Linked DNA regions of Homo sapiens. The protein of the gene in region 2 interacts with the protein of the main gene of each other region in a biochemical or structural test. Each region holds a gene or a part of one and is shown on either strand. Other genes may lie near its edges.

What was found. Proteins that work in one complex are often made in the same cells at the same time.
Region 1: the proteins of PATJ (region 2) and PKP4 interact in a test that uses a peptide from one of them, tested with the Homo sapiens proteins (2 studies listed by IntAct, with this or other methods).

What each region holds. Positions count from the first base shown.
Region 1 is NC_000002.12:158,451,943-158,459,985, reverse strand, and holds the start of PKP4 (plakophilin-4), read right to left. Parts: upstream 3,035-8,043; 5' UTR 2,856-3,034; coding exon of another isoform or gene 2,532-2,855; exon of another isoform or gene 1,679-2,531; intron 1-1,678. Other genes in the region: uncharacterized protein LOC124907900, read left to right, coding at 2,532-2,855; CCDC148 (coiled-coil domain-containing protein 148), read left to right, coding at 3,547-3,571. UniProt on the Homo sapiens protein: Plays a role as a regulator of Rho activity during cytokinesis. May play a role in junctional plaques.
Region 2 is NC_000001.11:61,759,429-61,766,486, reverse strand, and holds part of PATJ (inaD-like protein), read right to left. Parts: intron 3,630-7,058; 5' UTR 3,595-3,629; coding exon 3,573-3,594; intron 3,475-3,572; coding exon 3,308-3,474; intron 209-3,307; coding exon 14-208; intron 1-13.

The DNA of each region.
Region 1 (8,043 bases), on a different chromosome or scaffold from region 2:
ATGCACTTTGGTCAAAATACAATTTCGGTTATTTTCAATTGTGTAGGATCACTAGTTGAAAAACTTCCACTCTTTGAATATCTGTAACAAATAGAAAGCATTTCTAACTGAAAGGTTACCTTTACCTGAAGCAGGCAAAACTATCTGCACAGCCAATCGTGTGTGTGTGTGTCGTGTGTGTGTGTGTGTGTGTGTGATCCATACATCTGAACAGGGTTTTCAATTTCTAATGCGGCAGGGAAACTAAATTTGCTTTTACTTCCCAATCTTGACATCAAGTCAAAAAAGCACGGGTTAAGCATGGGTTAAACACTGCTGTAATATGATACTGTTACATAATAAAAGTTTCCTGTTGGCATTTACAAACACCTCCCAATATCCTCCACAGTGTTACTGGACACAAATTAAACCTCTAAATTAGAAGATTCACTGATTATGCACATAGCTGAAAAACAACGTAGCAACCAAAACATAAACGTTTCTGAGTGCAAAATATTTTTTTCTATTTTTTTTCCTTTCTGTTGAGTCCTTAACTAAAGGCTCCTATTTAATAGTTTTCAATGTCCATGATCTACACAAAGTAGGTGTTGGAAGAAAGCTGATTGGTCAGACAACTGACTTATTATTTTACTGAATCTGACATAAAATAACCAGGTGCAAAGAGGTTTATCATAAATGCAACCTGCAAAGCAAATTGTGTCAAATAAAAACACACATATGATGCTTTTCAACACCCAGAAACACTTATTTCAGACATTAGTTGTTCTCGTTTTCATGTTGCCATTTTCCATAACTGTTTCACAGGCACCAAAACGAAGATACTCCTACAGCAATATACTGCATTCAAGAAGAGAAGCATTCTTCTAGTTTCTCTTTAAAAATAAAAAGAATCTAAGCTCAATTCTAGCGAACCATTTTCTGTCAAAATTTTGCTCTCCCGTATTAAGGAAAACAAAATTTGACCAAAAATGCATACTAGCCATCATTGATTTTACACGTAAATAATTACCGTTCTTTAAAACTTGTAGGGCAGCATTTATTTTTTTTTTTCAGTCAAACTCAGTAACAAAGAGAAAAAACTGAGACCTCCACTAATAAATTACATCTTGAAATATACATGATTGTGGTGTCCCCGTGTTACTTTCAATGGTAACTGACACGTCCCGAATTTAACTGTACCAGACAGTTCTATCTGTCCCATCGCTGACCGAACAGTGCTTCTCTGTTTCTATTCATTATGTATTATACGAGGTCTAAACACAGCCCAGTATGACGAGGGAAAAAAATTACACTTCTTAGGATACCAAAGTGATGCATTCAAGATCTCTCTCGCAGTACATGCCCGTGAGCACTAACAGGCATTTTTTGATAGAGCTAAAATATGTTGGCTGCAAGCTCATTACTCTAACAACCTTCAGGCCCCCTGTTTCTGCTGGTTTTCAGAAAACCCTAGTGAAAACCAGGCACTATCCAAACCTTGCACACCAAACTTGCCAACAGCCCTGTGCAATGATCAATAACCTTGGCTACACAGTCATCGGCCCCAAATTCACGGTCCTGAAGACCAATGCAGCAAAAACCCAGACGAAAGGCTAGCTGGAGCCCCAAAGAATTACCGCGCTTCCCCTCTGCCGCATGGAGGGAAGCTATGGGAGGAGAGGAGTGGAATGAGGCTCACCAGCTCCGAAGATGCTCCGGTGACCTCTGGCTGCGCGGCGAGAGCTGGGGAGGGAAGGCGCTAGGGCAGCCGCGGCGGGCTGTGTGGACTCTGCCCCTGGTGCATTCCTCGCATTCCTGCACAATCTGTCGCCAGCCCAGGAGCCGGCAGCGCGCGTCCCCCGCTGTACACACACACCTGACTACCGCTGCGCCCCGAGCGGCCACGGCCGCCGCGGCACCTCCACTGCCCGCGCTCGCGGTGTGTCGCACTCAGCCAACACGCAGCCAAATCCCGGCCCCGCCGCTCGCTCTCCGGGTAGCGGTCCAGGGGAGAGGGCCGGCAGCCTCGGCAGCGGGCGGGGATACCAGATCCGCCAGGGAGGTGCCGCAGCTCCGCTTCAACTCCTGGCAGGGAGAGGAGGAAGCGGCGGCGCAGGAGGGCAGCGGCGAGGCTCGGCGCTGGGGAGCCGGGAGGGGTGGAGCGTGAGGATCCGCGGCCGGTAGAGAGGGGCGCACTAGGCAGAGGGGTGGGCAGGACCGGCAAGGAGTACAGGACTTCGGGGACAAACGCAAGACCGCGCGGGCAGCAGGGGCGTGGGAAGACGGGGAGGGGACCAAGGTGCAGGATCTGGGGCTAGAAGGACAGACAGCCGGCCCCGAGTGCTGAGGAGGGCGGGCGCCCAGTGGTGTCGAGGGCGACTTGGGGCGCGCGGCGGCAGGCAGCGGGGAAGCCGCCGCGAGGGCGTCCAGCAGGGCTCAGCGCGGCGCTCAAGTTCGGGGCTGGGAGCTCTGAATCCGAACAGCCCAGCGTGGGCAGAGGTCGTGCGCTGCGCGTACGGGAGACCGGGGAGAGGAATCGCCGGGAAAAGCAAATGGAGGGTGAAACTTGTGCGCCTGCCGGGGGGAGGGGAGCAGCAGGCGAGTGCGGGCAGGAACACGAGGCGGGGCAGGAAAGCCGCGGCGGCCGCGAGGCGCTGGGGACGCGGCAGCGGGAGGGAGGCCCCCGGCCCCCGGCGCGCAGGTCCTGGCCCTGGCGCGTGTTCGGGGCGAGGGCCGAGGGTCTCGTGGGCAGGAGTCTCCGCGCCCTCCCGCGAGCCCACACACTTACTTTCCAGCTTAGGCAGCGGCCGTCGTCGCTCCAGGGATCAGGGACATCGGCGCCGAGGGGTCGCCGCTGCGGCACCCGAAAAAATTAAAAAAGTGCCGCGGCGGCGCGGCTGCCCGCCCCTCCCTCCCCCACCGGCCCCCGCCCCCGGAGCGGCTCTCCCACCACCCCCGGCGGCGGCGGTGGCCAACTTGCCCCTCTACCCCTTGCCCATGGTGCCGCCTCCGCGGCCGGCGTCGACGCGGACTCAGCCCCGGAGCCCCCTCTACTGCCCAGAGGCCGCCGCCGCCGCCCGCCCCGCTGCCAGCCCTCCCGCCCGGCCAGCCCCGGGCTCCCGGGAACGTCAGCACGCCGCCGTCCCCGGGCCAGCTCCCGCCACCCCATTGGCGGGAAGGAGAGGGCTGGCCCTCCCCATTGGCCCGGCCCTCATATTGAACAGGCCAATGGGAGCTGCGGTTTCAGGTCGCCATAGAGACCGATGCTGTTCAGCGCGAGAGGGCCTGGAGAGGGTGGGTGTGAGAGAGAAGGTGTCTCAGGTCTCGGGCGCGGGAGGGGGTGGCGGAGAGGACAGGGAGATTCCCCAGCGCTGGCTCTGAAATCTGGGGCAGGCTTTCCTTGCCTTACTGCCAATCCCAACTGTGCCTGGTAGGGTTTGTCCCTGGCGTCAAAGGTAGGAACAGCTGAGCCCTTAGATGTACCCCTGACGGCGAGAGCCCAGGAGTGGGCGTTTCACTTTTCCTGCGTTTGGGGAGTCCCTGAGGCTATGCCCTTTGACCTTTGACATGTGTGCAGCTTCTGCTTCTCCAGGTGAGTTTGCACCCCATCCCTTCCATCGCTGCTTCCTCCTGACGTCACTGAGCCACCTAAATCCTACTTATGTTTGTTCTCTGCAGCCACTCCCCCTTCCCTGGGGTGGATCTTTCCTCAACGTTTTGGGTCCTCAAACTCATAACTCTTCTGAAAGACTCAAAGAGGATTTCCTTTGAGGATATTTTGGTAAGGGAACGAGGTGGCGGATTGTATGATAGATGCCAAAGCGTCAACACATGAGCTAGCCTGTTCCCTGATTCTCAAAGCAAACCTCTAATCTCCCTGTGGGCAGATATTTATTAAACACATCTGTGTGTACATCCCGCACTATGAGCTTGACAGGTGCATGTTCTTTCACTTGAGAGGTTACAGGCTTGTTAAAGATAGAGGAAACAGAAACAATCCTTCACACCTTGTGATGATTTCACAAAAGAGTAAGGGAAATGGATTACAGTTGATGGATTTTGTTTTCTATTTTCCAGTATCTCTTTAAATTTGATATGGAAATAACCTGAGGCATGAAATCAGTACACGCAAAAATCTTGAGCTTTAATAATGTCTTCTACTTTCATTTAAAATCATTTTGTGGTGGTTTATCAATACTAATTGTTTTTTGTCAATAAATTTTATGTTTAGATATCACCTTCTTAAAGTGAGATTTCATGAACATATTAGGCTTTAAAAGATGATATTGCTCTAGCCTATAGCCACTGATATTCTTACATTCTTTTGGCGATTTTACTTTTTTTAGACTAATCTCTTTAGTAAGGAGACTATGTTACTACCCCTCAAATTGGAGGGACCATATTGTGTGAAAAAGCTGATAGGATTTTGGAAATTACAAATATTTTGTTGGGAGAAACAGGTTAATGTGTGTGCAAGCTGCATATGTCTAAGTATTGTTCTGAATTTTAAGTTGGGTGATATGCTTTGCTACTGGTTTTTATCTTACTATAATTGAAGATTACAAAGATGTAACCTAAGAAATGTTAATATGGTGCCTTGATTGGAAAAAAAAAAACCTCTCCACATTTGTAGTAAAATGTGAACTCAGTTGACAGTCCTACACAGGGTAGGACTGTGGAACAAAACAGGTGAACGTGTGTATGTTCCCCCTAAATATTTTCAGAATTGAGAAGGGATCAGCAGGGGCCAGGAAGTGCTGTGCCATGGCTGGCCATCATGGAAATAGGCTGTTTTTTACTTCTTCCGGCTTTTTAATGTGTGTTTTTGTTTATAGAACAGAAAAAGTAAACCACAAATTGTTATATGAGACACATGTTTAATGAAAAGATACCAATGATTTTGCTTCTTTTAAATTTCAATAACATCAAATGAATGAAAGTTGTGTCTAATGGAAAGAAAAAATGGGTCTTTTCTCTTGCCTTAGGCTAGCATAGAAAGAAGAAAATAAAAGATTATTACTCCAATAATCTTTTTGTGTGGGTGTTTTTCTCAGATGACTATTTTGATATTGTAGATTTCGTGTTTGTCATAATTAAAATGTTACTGAAATCCACCATGAATAATGTCCCCTGAAATAAGTTGCCACTCAACATTAATTTTTTTGTTTATTTTTGTATTTAGTTGAAAGGTTTCTTTTGAACTTGCTCCTGCGCTACTAAGCATTGCTAGACAAGGTTAAAGAATCACTTCATTCCACTAAAAGTTCATGCTATTCAGACTTGGCTGTGTCTTCACTGATTCTCAGTTCCTTTCCTCATCAGGAGGATGATTATCTGGAACACTTATCCAGGAACATTATCCAGGCCACTTCCAAACCTGTCCAATGTCTGCTCTCCTGAAGCCCCCACTTTACGTGGTTTTCCTGCACTTCTGCAAATGATCTTGCCTCGTACTCTACTGAAGGATCCACCATGAGGTTCCTCAACTTAACTTTCTTAAACCTCAGTCCTAGTTTTCACACATCTTCACCTCCTTCAGTCATGGCTGAGAAGGGTGACCACATTTCTCTTCAAGGCTCATACTCCACTTATGCTCCTAAACATGAGCCATCTTCTCTCTACCAGGATTTTGCTCTATTGATTATAATTTCTCTCTTACATGATGTGTTACACCCTCTCCTCCAAAGATTTTTCCTAAGCCTTCCAAATATCTGGCTTTTGGTAAAACCACCTTCCTTCTACCCTACCACCATCTCTATCTATTGGCCTTTCTTTTCACCAAGAAACTGTCTGAAGGGAATTTCTTGAGGTTTCTACTTTGTTGCCAATGTTTTGGCCCTTGAATACCACTGAAATGATTTTGAAGATTGTGCTCTTTGTCCTCAAAATCCTAGCTTATTTTGCCAATTAAGTTCTCTCCTACAAAAATGTCCTTTGCCTCCAAGTTGGAATGGCCCAATTCCAGATTTCCAGTGAAGGAATGAAACCACTGTTACCTAGCCTGAGGATCCACAGAAATGCAAATGACTGGCTTGAGAAGAGGATGATTTAAACTGCTAGCCTGGCCACCTTGGGAAAAGTGCTGGAAAGTAGGGGTGGGGAGAGGGCCTGTGCTCAGGCTGACACTGGGGCCCAGGGCAAGGTTAGAATATTAGGAGGTCTGGTGACTCCACCCTCAAGAACGAAAGTAAACAGCAGAAATCCAAACAACTTTTCAATTACCAGCTCAGAAAGAAGTCTACCTGAAACTTTTAAGATTACGAAAACTTTGTAACTTTCCAATGTTTATTTTTTTCATATTATCCCCTAAAGATTAGTGGTAAATTCCCTAAGAAGCATAGCAGAGGCAGCAAGGAATAGGAGGAAGCAGGAGCACTGAGTCTCTTGTCATACCTGGGTGTCTATGGAGGAGTGGGGGAGGTGAAGATAAAATCTTCAAAAAGTACGCCAATACTGATAATTTTGGGGTTTTCTTTTTAAAGAGGAATGTTAAAACAGAGGTGGGTGGCAAAGGAGGGAAAGAGAGTAATGGAATAAGCGGGGCCTGAGAAGGGTTGCTAGGGCTTAATAATAGTTCCGCTCAGGTGGCTCTGGTGGTTTCAGGATTGGCTGAGCCCCACCCCATCCCCATCCTCTGAATATATTATACAAATCCTCCCATGGCTCTGCCTAATGATTACCTGTAAAAACTTTCTGAAAGTTTCCTGGCCTTCCCCCTTCTTGAGAGGGTGAGTTCTTCCTTACTGTATTGTGACCCTTGACACTCTATATCAAATGGTGTGGTTATTTTTGTGTGAGCCTTTTCCCCTAAGGGATAGGATCCACATCATGATCATGATTGTGTCCCTCACTGCCTTAAACTGCTGAAGCACCTCCCACACTAAGAAAAGCCAATATTTATTAGTCCTTTGTTTAGTTCTTGGAAGAACTTGACTTTGAACAATAAAAAATTGGAATCAGGATGTTGGGAGAGAATTAGGAAAAGTTGGGATTAGCTGTACAATGTGGAAAAATCAGATAAAGTATGATAGAGCAGAATAGAGGTTTTGAAACTCAGCTTTGCTAAGCAAGTTAAGGGTTACATTTTTTGGTATGTGAAACTTCTAGGTTGTCCTGTCTCTTGGAAAACAGTGGGGTCATGAGATTTTAACAACTTCATAAAATCAGAATGGTGTCAAACATCTGGTATGTGTAATAGAAATGCTTCCTAGTACGTATATCCACAGCCCTTGAAGGAGGCAGCCCTGCACACCTCATAACAATGCACCTGGCAAGGCATCAGCCCCTGTGGGGAGACCTGAGCCATGTAGCCAATCCACTGCCTAACCATTGACCCCTAACTGGTAATGATGCCAATCAGATTATTTTCCAGGGAATTTGAAATTAAGAGAACAAGAGAACCAGAGAGAGCAGCTGTCTTGGTCCTGATGTTTTCTGGGTTCCTATTGAAGGGACCACAATATGCCTACCCCAAAATGTGCCATTTTGGCATAAGGAATATTTTGAGCTGAAAGCAATTGAGAAATAGCAGATACAAGAAAAACTCTTTTTCCCTCCTGCTTTTCTGTCTAAGAGTAGGCCATAAATTTCCATTTATAAAGTTGTCTGCCTCTCTACTACCAGGAAAGGATCTACTTGGAAATATCTCTTGAGGACGCTTATGCATATAACACACCTTACTAGACAACCCTTATTTATCATACGTTTCCTAGCACCTTTCCTAACTTCCCCCCTCACCCCTGTTCTCCACAGGAAGCCCCATACCCCCTTTCCTTTGTGTAGCCTCTTCACACTTAATCACTTCTGTTACGATGGTATAGGTCAAAAATTCTAATTGCCTCCTTGAGTCACATTTATTTGTGAAGGCTTTGTGTACATATGTAATTAAATGTTTTTTCTCTTGTCAGTCTGTCTTTTATCAGTTTAATTCTCAGACATTGAAGGTAAGAGGATAGAGGAAAAGTGTTTTTCCTTCTTTACACTATTCTCCTCATAAGGTCATACTTAAATAAACTTCATTTTCTTTTTGTTTTGTGAGATTTTTGTTTCCTGTGATCATCCCTA
Region 2 (7,058 bases):
GATACAACTTTACCTGAGCCATCTGTTGAATGACTGAGTTAAAGTCTTCATTTCCCAACTTCGGGGTCCACGGAAATAACCCAGATACAGTCGAGTTATTAGAGGGCCTGTGGACATTTCCATTAGTGATGGAACCATCTGTGAACACTAACAAACCTTTCCTAGAAAAATCAAAGTTGGCTGAACAATCTGAGGGTATATGGTTGAGCTGTTGGAGAGAAAAAAAAAGAATCAACAGAAATCTATAGAAAAATTGTTTCTATTTATTAAATATATTTTGACCATTACATAGATACTTTGCACATTAAATATATACATGGAAAAGAAATAAGGTAAAGATAGATCAAATCTGTGTATTCACAAGGCTAAAAATTTTTTAAATTTAGTATTACACAAAATGTTTAATAGCTTAAAATTTGTTCTTATTTCCTGCCTTCTACCACTAGTCCAAGTTAACAGCATGTACACTGACATCTTTTTACACTTCACATATACAGATGCATCCAGTCACATAACAGTGTAAGGCACTAAACCTTTTTCCATTTATCTGTACAATTCCACGTGGGGAGCAACAAAAGATCCACAGGTAGTATATAATGATAATAACTGTACTTATTGAGTGCTTGCTATGAGTAAGTACTATACCAGCATGATTGCAGGTATTATCATTTAATTCTTACAACAATCTAATGAGATATCATTATCCCATTTTGTGAGCCTAAAAACCGAGGCACACAGGGGTTAAGTAACTTACTCAAGATTAGCAGTGAGTCACGGAGCCACTTAAACATTGATAGAAAGAGGAGAATCATGTAATTATGGTGGACATAATTTAAAATATCATTGGCTGATACAACTGCCAAAACAGTAGAATAAAGGTAACATTAAGAATAAATGTCAGTGGTGAAACCCCATCGCTATCAAAAATACAAAAATTAGCCGGGCATGGTGGTACACACTTGTAATTCCAAGGTACTTGGGAGGCTGAGGCAAGAGAATTGCTTGAATCCCGCAGGTGGAGGCTACAGTGAGCCGAGATTGCACCACTGCACTCAGCCTGGATGACAGAGCAAGACTCTGTCTCCAAAAAAAAAAACAGAATAAATGTTAGGCCGGGTGTGATGGCTCACACCTGTAATCCCAGCACTTTGGGAGATCAAGGTGGGAGGACTGCTTCAGGGCCAGGAGTTCAAGACCAGCCTGGGCAACATAGTGAGACTCTTGTCTCAACAAAAAATACAAAAATTAGCTGGGCATGGTGTCACATGCCTGTAGGCCCAGCTACTTGGGAGGATGAAGTGGGAGGATTGCTTGAGCCCAGGAGGTTGAGGCTACAATGATCCATAATCACACCACTGTACTCTAGCCCAGGCAAATACTCTGCCTCAAAAAAAAAAAAAAAAAAAAAAAAAAAAAAAAATGAATGTCAATAAAACCTCAAAGAAAAAATAAAAAACCCCTGGCTACAGGGATTATACAGTCCAATGCATAAAATATGACTGTGTACATAACAACTCCAAACTATACAAATATAAAGAATTGTTATTAGGATAGGGTAGTTACAGCCACTCTTAGTCCAACAAGTGTGATAGATTTCTGCTGATCTTTGCCAATTTCAGTTGCTACCAACAGCATTCACTATTGTGATATTCTGTGACCAAGAGAAATACAGAAAGCTAAACATCAATATAGGCAGTGCTAAAATTAGGGTATAAATTCTGGTCTAAAGAAAGCAATTCACAGAAAGACACATGTAGAATTTAATCCTTAATTGGCTATAAACAAATCACTCACAAAATACTTAATGGGCAAGCATTTTAGTTTATCAGCAAAAACCATTTTTTCCCAAATTTTGTAAATTTTCACTTAACTGTGCTAAATTAGCTCCAATTATGTTTTAAATTCTGCCCAAATTTCATCTATGGTATAGCTACTATTCAAGTTCAGCTTCCAGAATAGGTGATTTAAAAGTAATTTGCCATCCCTGACCCCAAAACAAAGAATCCAAGAGGACAGTTAAAACAATTAATTTCTGGTTCAATCTCAGCACCAAAAAAAAAAAAAAATCCCACAACTGCTAATTTGCACCCCTCTAAGAAGAGGTGATATGTGTCCCTTATTCAATAATGATGTATTAGAGCCTGAAGAATCCAGATAGTGTGGTAAATGAGTAGAAGAAACATAACTATATATTTAAATACCAGGTATTCTGCTTCCAAGGAACTTCTAATCAGAATACGCATGAAAGACAACAAATATTTGATAATTAAGAGAAGTGTGACTATTGTGCTATAAGGGCATGATCACTTCTTGTTAGATAAAAGACTTCGGCCGGGCGAGGTGGCTCACGCCTATAATCCCAGCACTTTGGGAGGCTGAGGCAGGTGGATCACAAGGTCAGGAGATACAGACCATCCTGGCTAACACAGTGAAACCCCGTCTCTACTAAAAAAAATAATAATAATAACACACACACACAAAAAAAAAGACCACACACACACACAAAAAAAGACTTCATAAGGAAAATACGCCTGGGCAAGGTGGCTCATGCCTATAATCCCAGCACTTTGGAAGGCTGAGGTAGGAGGACTGCTTGAGGCCAATAGTTTGAGACCAGCCTGGGCAACATAGGGAGACCCTGCCTCTATAAAATTTTTAAAAATTAGCCCAACTGTGGTGGCACACACCTATCCCAGCTACTCTGGAAGCTGAGGTGGGAACATTGCTTGAGCCTGGGAGGTCAAGGCTGCAGTGAGCTAGGATCACAGCACTGCACTCCCGCCTCAGTGACAGAGAGAAACCTTGTCTCAAAATAAAAAGAAAATATATTTAAGTTAAGCACTATTTTATAGTTTTGAAGATGTTGAGAATTCTCAAAGCATCTGACCTTTACATACTTAAATAAGTACAAAAACCATATTCTAAAACCAAACACAATTTTTTTTTTTTTTTTTGAGACAGGGTCTCAACTCTGCCATCCAGGCTGGAGTGCAGTGGCATGATCATAGCTCACTGCAACCTGGAACTCCTGGGCTCAAGCAGTCCTCCCACCTCAGACTCCTGAGTTGCTGGGACTACCGGTACATGCCACCACATCCAGTTACCAAAGAAAAAATTGATTATTGATATTTCTAAATTATCTATGCCAATGCTACCCACAGGTTATAGGTTACAGGTCCCAATACAGTCTCTTTGCTGAACTGAGTCCTTAAAGATAATTTGTCTTTGTCTATCTCCTCTATCTTTCTTTGATGGTTTGAATATATTAATATAATATATTAATGTAAAACTCTGATGGGTAACTTACTTGACCCTTCAGTTGCTTGATGGACTGCTGAAGTGTGAGTATCTGGTTGAAGAGAGGACTCTTTAGTGTCTCATAAAACATAGATAACTTCTCATTCTGCGACGTGTCACCCTTCTCCTGCAATTTCATTTTCAGGCGATCAAGTACCTGCAGCACCTGCAGTTTATCTTGGGTCAAGATGAATAAGTAGAGTAATAGTTAAGTCCCATTTGAGATTCCATTTTTAAATAATTAATTTAATTATAGAACAATATATCCAGTATACCTGTAGCAGGATTTTCAGGCATTTTGAATTATTCTCTTCAATCACTCTTAAAGACACCTAAAGAAAAAATTTAACAATATAAAAGATGAATTTCAATTGTATATGGCTACAATCCTGTAGAAAAATTAAGGAAAACCTCAAGAACATTCTTTATCAAGGCTCCACTCAGTGAAATTCAAAATTATAACCACAATGAGGTGCCACTACACACCCACTAAGGTAACTAAAATTTAAAAACAGACAACACTAAGTTTCAACGAGGCTGTGAAGTGCCTGGAACTATTATTGTACATTGCTAAGAGAAACGTAAAATATCACAACCACTTCGGAAAATTGGTAGTTTCTTATAAAGTTAAAAATACACTTACTATATGACCCAGCACTTCCACTCACAAATACTTACTCAGTATTCATGAAAATATATGCTCACAAAAACGCCTGCACATGAAAGTTTACAGCATTTTTATTTACAAAAACCCCAAAACTAGAAAAACCCAAGTGTCTAGTAACAGATGAATAAACAAATGGTATATAATATTCAGAAATAAAAAGGAAAAATTACTGATACACACAACAAGGATAAATCTCAAAAATGATATGTGGAAAAAAAGAAACCTGACCCAAAAAAGGCACAAACCATACTGTATGATTACATTCATATGAAGTTCAAGTACTGACAAAACTAATCTACAATTATAGATTAATTTACCTGGGGCAGGGTCATAGGGAACTGACTATGACAGGCTTCAGAACATGCTACTCCCAAAATATGACACCTTGGCATTGTTGAATATTTTAAGTTGAAGGAATCTGAGAAACAGCAGGTGCAAAAAAGACTTCCCCTGAAGCAGATCATAGGATCCTCATGTGAGAGGTGTCCTCTCTATACCCAGAAGATAGCAGCATCTTAATCTCAAAAGACAGAGTGGCCGGGCGCATTGACTCATGCCTATAATCCCAGCACTTTGGGAGGCCGAGGCAGGAGGATCACTTCTGCCCCAGAGTTTGAGGCCAGCCTGGGCAACACAGTGAGATTCCATCTCTACAAAAAAAATTCAAAAATCAGCCACCCATGGTGGCACATACCCATAGTCCCAGCTGCTCAGGAGGCTGAGGCAGGAGGATCACTTGAGCCCAAGAGGTTGAGGCTGCAGTGAGCTATGATCATGCCACTGCACTCCAGCCTGGGGAACAGAGTGAGACCCTGTCTCAAAAATTAAAAAAAAAAAAAATAGAGGAACACCCAGAGGAATATGAACAAACAGGCCTTGTTAAGTTTTTCCCTGTTTACTACTCTTGGCTCATATCCCTTTCTGTCCTATCACATTCCACAACTCTTCCTTCTTCATCAAACCTAATTTAAAAACACTCAGGTTTTACTGTTTCTTCGGGTCTTCCTTTCCTTATGAAGGCTCCCATGTCACATAAAACTTATATTAAACAAGTTTACATGTTTTTCTCTTGTTAATCTACCCTTTATTACAGGGGCCCCAACCGAAAACTTAGAAGGGTAGAGGCTATTTTCCCTCCCCTACACTGGGAAGGGGTTCAAGGAAGCTTTTTTGGAGTGATGGACACATTGTGTCTTGAAGGGGGTATGGTTTACACAGATGTATATACTTATCAAAATTTATTGAACCAGGCCAGGAGCAGTGGCTCACTGTGATCCCAGTACTTTAGGAGGCCAAGGCAGAAGGATCACTTGAATCCAGGAGTTTGAGACCAGCCTGTGCAACAAAGTGAAACCTCATCTCTACAAAAACAAAAAAATTAGCTGGTGTGGTGGCTTGTACCTGTAATCCCAGCTACACTGGAGACTGAGGTGAGAGGATCGCTTGAGCCCAGGAGGTTGAGGTTACAGTGAGCCATGATCATGCCACTGCACTCCAGCCTGGGTGACAAAGGGAGACCCCATCTCAACAAAAAATAAAAGAAAAATTCCCAAGCTGTACAAATGATCTCAGACTCTTACTAGTCATCTACAGCTTGAAAGAAACCACCCAGGCTGGGCGCCACGGCTCACACCTGTAATCCCACACTTGGAGAGATCGAGGTGGGTGGATCACCTGAGGTCAGGAATTCGAGACCAGCCTGGCCAACACAGAGAAACCCCGTCTCTAATAAAAATACAAAAATTAGGCGTGGTGGCACTCACCCATAATTCCAGCTACTCGGGAGGCTGAGGCAGGAGAATTGCTTGAACCTGGGAGGTGGAGGTTGCAGTGAGCTGAGCTCATGCCACTGCACTCCAGCCTAGGCAATAAAGCCAGACTCTGTCTCAAAAAAAAAAAAAAAGAAAAAGAAAAAGAAAAGAAAAAAGAAACCACTCAAAGTGGCATTCTCTATGGATAATGTTTTCTTAATTCCAGTGATTTGATGAAATTAATCTAAAATGTAACGTAATTAAAAACTCAAAAGGCTAGCAAAACCCTTTGCTATGACCAAAATGAGACATTTTCAGTGATCATTTTTACTAGTGATACACACTTGTAATGAACCATCAAAGAAATACAAGTATTATACAATCAAAATTTTCTTACATCAACCTGGATATGGTGGCTGAATGACATCTTTATCTTCTAATTCAAGATCATTAAGCAAAAAAACATATTGAAAACCAATAACGGATGCCATTGACATTGATAAAAGGTCTAAGTATTCCATCCAAATGTTCACTGGATTCAATGGGAATACCAAAAGAAGTGCTGAATAGAGCATCAAAAAAACACTTCTGATGTGCTCAGCATCTCAACTGTACAACTCTTACAACTACCCAGTGACAGGTAACTGTGAATAACAAAAGGGCAGTCATGACAGCACTGTACTCTCATATAGCAGCATACAGCCCAACAGGATTGACAAGAGCGGCCTGCTGGTCATTAACACATCAACCTCTCTAAATCGAAGAATGCAAACTAAAACAATAAGATGACATTTTTTTACTGCCAAATCTCAACTGACATTTATTGATTTATTAGAGATTAATAATAGTTTATACTCCAAATGTCATGAAAAAATAGGTGGAAATAAAAATTTACACAATGTATACTGACACTGCTAAGTTGTCCTAAGAGTGTACAATTTTTACTTCTGAGTGTCACTCTGAAAGAAAAACTGGCAAAGGGGGACAAAGATGTGTGTGCAAGGGTATTTACCACATTTTTAATAGCAAAACTCCTGGAAAAAGTAAATTATCAAAAGCGATCAGCCCGGGCGCTGTGGCTCACGCCAGTAATCCCACCACTTTGGGAGGCCAAGGTAGGCGGATCACTTGAGGTCAGGAGCTCGAGACCAGCCTGAACAACATGGTGAAACCTTGTGTACTAAAAACACAAAAATTTGCTGGGCGTGGTGGCAGACGCCTATAATCCCAGCTACTTGGGAGGCTGAGGCAAGAGAATCACTTGAACGCAGGAGGTGGAGGTTTCAGTGAGCCGGGATCGTGCCACTGCACTCCAGCCTGGGTGACAAAGCAAGACTTTGTCT